Linked DNA regions of Homo sapiens. The protein of the gene in region 1 interacts with the protein of each later gene in a biochemical or structural test. Each region holds a gene or a part of one and is shown on either strand. Other genes may lie near its edges.

Region 1 (3,814 bases):
GGCCTTTGATTCCTTTTTCCTGTGTGCATTTTTGAGCACCTTCTGTGTGCGAGAGGCCGTGCCTGCCCGAGAAGAGAAGGAAACACCACAATGAGCCTCGGACACCCACAGTCTGAAGGGCCCGGAGTAAGCCTCAGACGCCCACAGTCTGGAGGGCCCGGCGCTGTGAACGAGCAGTCACAGGGAACAGCGTGCCCTTATCGCTGACACAGGCTCTGGAGGGCCCGGCGCTGTGAGTGAGCAGTCATAGGGAACAGTGCACCCTTATCGCTGACACAGGCGAGGGCTTCGTCTTCTCACAGCTCTTATCTTGGGTGTCACCCCAGCCAGAGTCAGGGCTGATGGCGGGGGGTGGGGGGGGGGCAGGCTGTGGTCAGGGACCTGCAGGAGAGGGGAGGGCCTCGCTTCTGATGGGCGACGTTCATTTACACACAGCTCTGCGGCCCAAACGGCCAGGCTGGATCCTGTCTTTTAAAAACCTTGCTAATTTGGTTGATGGAAAATATCATCTCAGAGTTCTGTTTTGTGAGTCCCCATTGCCATGCGGGCAAACATTTTCATCCACTAAGGGGCCGTCGTGTTTCTCTGGGAACGTGGCGTTCACCGTGTGGGTGAACTTTTTCACGCACTAAGGGGCCGTCGTGCTTCTCTGGGAATGCCGGGTTTGTGGCTCGTGCCCACTGCCCTGCAGGTGCATTCTCTTTCCCCGTAGCTTTTTGTCTGTTGATGCTTTCAGCTCTGGATGTCCTATTTTGCGTACTTTTATTGTTTATGGTCAGCCTTTAACTGGGGGTATGATATTTCTTTAACTGGGGGTATATTTCTTTTTTTTTTTTTTTTCGAGATGGAGTCTGGCTCTGTTGCCCAGGCTGGAGTGCAGTGGCGTGATCTTGGCGCCCTGCAACCTCCATCTTCCGGGCTCAAGCGATTCTCCTGCCTCAGCCTCCTGAGTAGCTGGGACTACAGGTGTGGGCCACCACGCCTGGCTAATTTTTTTTTTTTTTTTAAAGTAGAGACGGGGTTTTGCCATGTTGGCCAGGCTGGTCTCAAACTCCTGACCTCAGGTGGTCCACCTGCCTCGGCCTCCCAAAGTGCTGGGATTCCAGGCGTGTGCCACTGTGCCCAGCCATGGGGTATATTTCTTAATGTGTGGAGTTGTTTTTCCTCATTTTTCTGGTCCCTTTAGAGATGGCACCCTGGAGTGGCCAGCAGAGCTCAGGGGCCTGCGGCCCAGGCACACAGACAATGGAGCTGGCCCTGCCACTTTGCTCATCTGTGGTGCAGGTCTGCTGAGGGGCCGTGAGGGTCCTGCAAGTGAAGGTGCTTGAGGCCTCAGTGCCTGTGGGGAGGCCACGTGGCACCTGTCAGCTGTTAGCGTCTTGACTCTGCCTTTGTGGATATGGAATTAGAGATGCTTCTCACAGTAGTGGCTAAACTGTCAGGAAGCCTGGCCGTCATCTATGGTCCTCTTTGCCCTCATGGGTGGGATGCCGCCTAGTGTGATGGCTGAGAGCTCAGGCTGTGACCCTGAGTGTGTGTGGCCACGGGCAGGCTGCTCACCCTCTCCGTGTCTTGGTCTCTAATCTGTGCCTGGGGATGGTGGAGCGTCATGGGGCCATACAGGAAGGATGGGACATCACACATCGGCTTCCTGGGGTGTGTCCTGCTGACAGCCCTCTGAGGCCAGCCGGTCCTGAGGCTCTAGGGGGGACGCCACAGTGGAGAGAGGGCTCCATCCCCACCCTTAGGGCAGAGCCCCGTAGGAGGGACTGGTTTGCAACGTGAGTAAAATGGGTCCCCGTGAGCAGACACAGCTTTTGTGCTGCTTCTTACTGAGCCCCGCGCTGTGCCTGCTGAACTGAAAGATGTGTATTAGAGAGGGCAGCCATTCCCACCTCCTCCAGCCGCGCTACGTGTCCGCAGGCCAGGGCGCCTGCACCATGACAGGCTTCAACGCCCCTGTCGCGGGGACCCAGGGAACACCTGTCTCCTCCACTTGCTGGATTTGTGACTGGGCGGCAAACATTTTCTAAAGTCTCCCGCTACGACCCCTCGGCTGTCAGGAGACTTCTGAGAAAGCCGGGCCTCTTTTGCCCCAGCGAGGAGCTTTCTTGTGAAGAGGCAGTTCCCGGAGGGAGGCGTCTGTGCTTTGTAAAGTTTAGCCTCATGTGCTGCCTCTGAGGAGGAGTTCAGAGAACATCCGCTTCCTTTCTGTTATCATCTCAGCCTTCCAGCCAGAAAGAAGGAAGCGTCCATGGATCCCGTCCACGCTAACCTTGGGGTCCCTCTGCCAGCCCTGCACATCCTTGTCCCTGGGCACTGAGGGAAGCAAAGGCCCCGCCAGCCATGCCCAGCACTTGTGCCTGGGCCTTTGCAGAGGCTAGAGGCAGGGTAGAGGATGGAGAGGGTTTAAAAGGCAGGTTCCCAGGAAATTCCCTAGGTGTGGGATTGGAGGGGTGCTGAGGGAGGTGGCGGACCCTCAGGGGCAGGAGCCTTATGGAGTGAGCTGGTCCATGGAGCTGGGAGGCGTCTTCTAGTATAAATTCTCATTTCAGCTAAACAGCTTGCCCTCTCCAAGCCCGTGTGCACCTGAACCATCTCTGCTCTCTGAGCCTTGGTCCCTTGGAGGAGCAGGAGGAGGTGGAGGAGGAGGATCGGGAGGAGGAGGGGGAGGCCCTTTCTGTATTGGATGCACCGCCTGGCCCCAGGCCCTCCTGCCCAGCCTTGTGGCTCTGGCCGTCAATCAGCTCCCTTCTCCTGGCTTTGCTGCTGCCCTGCCTCTTGCTAGGAGGCCATGGTGTGCCTGTGCCTGGCAGGCAGTGTTGCTGCTGACCTCTCATCTGTTTTGGGTCCCCAAATCTCAGCCCTGTCTCCCTTTCGGGGGCACATCTTGATGCGGGGTCTCTGATCCCCTCGGGGCAGCAGGACATCCCTGTTTTCCAGCTGAAATGAGACTTCACCCCCAAAGGAATGGGCTCCAGTCCGACCTACTCAGGTTGTTAGTCACACGTTTCTATTGTGAAAATGACTGAGAATGTTGTGGGAGGTTTGGAAACCAGGAAGACCACCTGTCCCAATTCAGCCTTTCCTGTCATCACAGGGGACGTCTGGCATTTTAACAGACCTGGGCGGCCTCCTGCAGACAAGGCTCGGACCCTGCGGCCGACTCTGCCCCAGGCCTGGCCCCTGCTGATGGCCATGCTCCGGGCATGTGGCCTGAGGGCCTCACGGACAGCCAGCCTCCCAGACCAGAAAACAGCCCTGCCCGCCAGTGAGAGGGCAGACAGATGGACACTAATGTCCCCGAACCTAAGAAACAAAACCCAAAACCCTCATTTATGCTTCCACTTCCGATCACACGCATAGAAGGCCGAATACTGACCCCGAGCTGACCACCCCGGCCTGTGGGACCCGTGAGTATGGCCTGTGTGTGGGATGAGGCTCAGGATCAGGTGCAGATGACCCTGGATTATCAGGTGGGCCCCACGTCATTACGAGGGTCCTTATAGAGAAGGGGCAGGACAGGGAGAGGAGGGGATGATGGAGATGGAGCCGCTGGGGAGGGCATGAGAAGACCAGGAAGTGGGTTCCCCCTGGAGCCTCCAGAGGACCCCTGCGGGCACCGTGACTTCTGACTTCCAGTCTCCTGAGCTCTGAGGGATGCCTGTGTTGCTTTAAGACACTGACTGACTTGTCCCAGCAGCCAGAGGTGACAGTGCGGCGTGGTGTTGGTTCACCGAAGGGGTGGCATTAGTGACCATGGGAATAAGGGCCTCTCACCTGCGAAGGGCCACTCTGTGGGGCAGGAAGTCTT
Region 2 (3,814 bases), on another chromosome or scaffold:
ACCAATAATGATATTGTAGTTGCATACCATACAAATATCATAGTAGGTTATATTTTTCTATTTTGCAATTTGGATTTCGTGATCAATTTTCACTATCCAACCCTAAAATTTACTCATAACAAATTTGTTATTTAAGGATAATACTGGTGGGGCACAGTGGCTCACGCCTGTAATCCCAGCACTTTGGGAGACCGAGGTGGGCAGAGCACTGGAGGTCAGGAGTTCAAGGCCAGCCCAGCCAATGTGGTGAAACCCCATCTCTACTAAAAACAAAAAAATTAGCCTAGCATGGTGGCAGGCACCTGTAATCCCAGGTACTCGGGAGGCTGAGGCAGGAGAATTGCTGGAATCTGGAAGTCAGAGGTTGCAGTGAGCTGATATCACACCACTGCACTCCAGGCTGGGCGACAGAGAGAGACTGTCTCAAAATAAATAAATAAATAAACAGAAAAAGAACAAAAGATAATAGGATAATATCATTCTAGGCACAGGACTGTTATGAGGATTAGAGCTGACAGGCTGATTTCATATACTGGAGTGCATTTGCCAAATACAACCACCCCATACAAAACAGAGTACTGACTCCCTGTGACAGTTGAGAGAAGTGAAGTGACTCAATGCTGTTCTACTTACTAAGTGGAAGAGGTGGGATTTGACCTGAGGTCTAACTGATTGCAAAGCACATTCTCTTTTCACTACAACATGGCTGCTGTTTCTATATCACATTACTTATTTTACGGTCTTTCTAAACGCGAAGTTAACATACAAAAAGAAAAGCCACAATAGCGATATTTAAAGCCAGACTTAAAAAAAGAACAGCAATAGTGATAAAGGACACACAGTGCAGTAAAAAAGATAGAAGTTCACATGCAAAGGCAGAAAGTGAAACAAAATACGAACGGCAATTTAGAGACCAGCTTTACGTCCGTAGTTTGGATTCTTGAAATTATTAATAGGACTCTTGTAAATCGGATTTTCTTGCTAAAGTAAAAGAAATAGTTTCTAATGATTTCATCAGAAAAAAAAAATCCCTTTATAGTGTTTGAACACTATAAATGTCTTTTTTTTTATTTCTACCCTTCTGAAATTTGTAATTTAAAAAATTGATAATTTTTAAAAACCCAAGCAAATTGTAGTAAAGTGCAACTAACTACAAAATTCATTTACAATTTAAAAATACTGAAGATTGGCATTGCTTTCTTGTATCAAAAGATGAATACACAAAGGCCAACATTTGGTTACCCCACCCTCTGACTCCATATTTCAAAGCACTCAATGCTAACATAACCTTTCGGTCACTTAGGGCTTTTAAGATTTTTATAAGCCAAAGTTTACTGAGATATAATTTTCATAGAGGAACATACATCTTTTTAAAGTACATAGTTCTGTGAGTTTTCAAATACATAAATCCACCCACAATCAAGATCATCCCAAGGAAGATCCCTTACGCCCCTCTGTGGTCAACACTTTCCCCCATTCCAGCCCCTAGCAACCACTGATTTTTGCCCCTACAGTTTTGCTTTTCCAGAATGTCCTCTAAATGGAATCATATAGTATATAGCAGGGGTGTCCAATCTTTTGGCTTCCCTGGGCCACACTGGAAGAAGAAGAATTGTCTTGGGCCACACATAAAATACACTAACGATAGCTGATGAGCTTTAAAAAAAAGTTACCAAAAAAAAATAATAATAATAATTACAATTTCTAAGAAAGTTTACAAATTTGTGTTGGGGCCACATTCAAAGCTATTCTGGGCTGCATGTCCTGGCCGACGAGCTGCGAGTTGGACAAGCTTGGTATATAACCTTTTGAATCTGGCTTTCACTGAAGGTTTTTTTTGTTTGTTTGTTTTAAAGAAAGAAGCAGCTTTCCATTGAATAGCTTGCTACACAGATAACATTATTTAGGATTCTACTTCACATTAGATGAAAAGGCAGATTTAGGATCAAAACTATTAAAGAAATAAAAATACTGGCCACAGTAACCAGAATATACATGCTTATAATCAATGTTTTGTTTCAATGGGATATATTTAGGATGCTTTCTGTTTTTCACTAAATGCAAATTCCTTGAGTAAGAAACTTTTGGGGGAATAAAATACTTAGAAAGGACTTTAATAATCAGCCTGACAGCTAATACATAAGTCTTAGGAGTATTACATTTACTTTATAAGCCACTTTGCTTTTTGGATGTTTTGTAACTTACCGTGTCCCATTTGGCATTCATTTTCTCCTTTTCAAATTTAGCAAACTCCCTTCTGTCATGAATTATCATTAAAAGCTTCCATATCAGCAGTAATGCAAGGCCAATAAGAACAATTCCAGCAACCACACCAGCTACAATTGGAATGATGTCTGGACCAGTGGGACACTCTGGAAAATAAGAAGGTAATAATGAGCACCACAAAGAGCTGTGCAGTGTCTTATAAAAAACATACAGGAATAAACACCCAAGAGAGTGAACGCACACTATCCCAAAGAATCTATAAAATAGCTCTTAGAACTAACAAGTGAGTTTACAAGGTTGCAGGATACATGATCAATGAACAAAAATCATGTATTTTTCTATATATATAATTTATTTCTACATATTGAAAATATAAGTTTTTAAACAGTAATATTTACTACAGAATGAAAAAGCATGAAAAACTTACATATAAGTCTAACAAAATATATGCAAGATTTGCATGTTAAGAATTACTAAATACTGATAAAAAGAAATCTTTCAGACTGAATAAATGGAGAGATATTCCATGTGCAGGAGTTACAAAACCTAATACCGTTAAGACGTCAATTCTTCCCAATTTGATCTATAAACTCAATGGTATCCCACTCAAACTCCTGGCAGAACTTCTGTAGCAATCAGTAAGCCACTTCTAAAATTTACATGGAAGGCAGGGAACTAAGGAAGTGTCTCAAAAACACTTTTGTAAAAGAATAAAGTTGGAAGACCCTGCTTTCAGGCCTAGCTATAAAGAAAGCTACAAGACCATGTGGTATAGCTAACACTCAGATACATGGAACAGAATACAGAGTCAGAAACAGGCCTACACATGTAAGGTCACCTGATGTTCAACAAAGGTGGAGAAAAGACAGTCTTTTTTCAACAAATGCCCCTAGAACAAGTGGACACTGACATGAAAAAAACTGAGCCTTTTGTCACACACTAACTCAAAATGAGTTACAGATCTAAATGTGAAACCCCAGAAACTATAAAACTTCTACCAAAAAACAGAGGAGAAAAATCCTTATAATCTTGGGTTAGGCAGAGTTCTTAAAGACAATGTAAAAGCAAGAGCCACAGAAGAAAAACTTGGTAAACTGTACTTAATCAAAATTAAAACCTGTGGTGTTCAGAAGACACTTAAAAAAATGAAATGATAAGGAGACACAGGCTGGGAGACAATATTTGCAAAACACCTAGCTGATAATTCAAAACAGTATGGGAGTCTAAGAGTCTGGCAGCTTCTTAACAAAGTTAAACATATGCTTACCATATGCTCCAAAATGCCATTTTTAGTATTTACCCAAGAGAAATGAAAGCTTATGTTCACACAAAAACATGTACACTATGGTAGAAAATTCCAAAGAATCTACAAAAAGGCTACTAGGAAAACTAAGATTAAAAAAAAAAAGTTTCACCTCCGGAGAAGTTGAACAAATTCAACACTTTATATTAATATCCTTTAACAAATTATCTTTCCCAGTATTCAAGCTTAAATCAAGCTCTAATTTTAAAATCATCAATCATCAAAAAACTCTTAATATGCACTTGGTGTCAGGCATCGTTCTAAGTGTCTTATATAAATCACTAA

Evidence for each region.
Region 2: the proteins of COL18A1 (region 1) and ITGB1 form a complex in vitro, tested with the Homo sapiens proteins (one study listed by BioGRID).

Annotation. Positions count from the first base shown.
Region 1 is NC_000021.9:45,411,414-45,415,227, forward strand, and holds part of COL18A1 (collagen alpha-1(XVIII) chain isoform 4 preproprotein), read left to right. Parts: intron 1-3,814. UniProt on the Homo sapiens protein: Probably plays a major role in determining the retinal structure as well as in the closure of the neural tube.
Region 2 is NC_000010.11:32,906,163-32,909,976, forward strand, and holds part of ITGB1 (integrin beta-1 isoform 1A precursor), read right to left. Parts: intron 2,373-3,814; coding exon 2,206-2,372; intron 982-2,205; coding exon of another isoform or gene 907-981; exon of another isoform or gene 901-906; intron 1-900.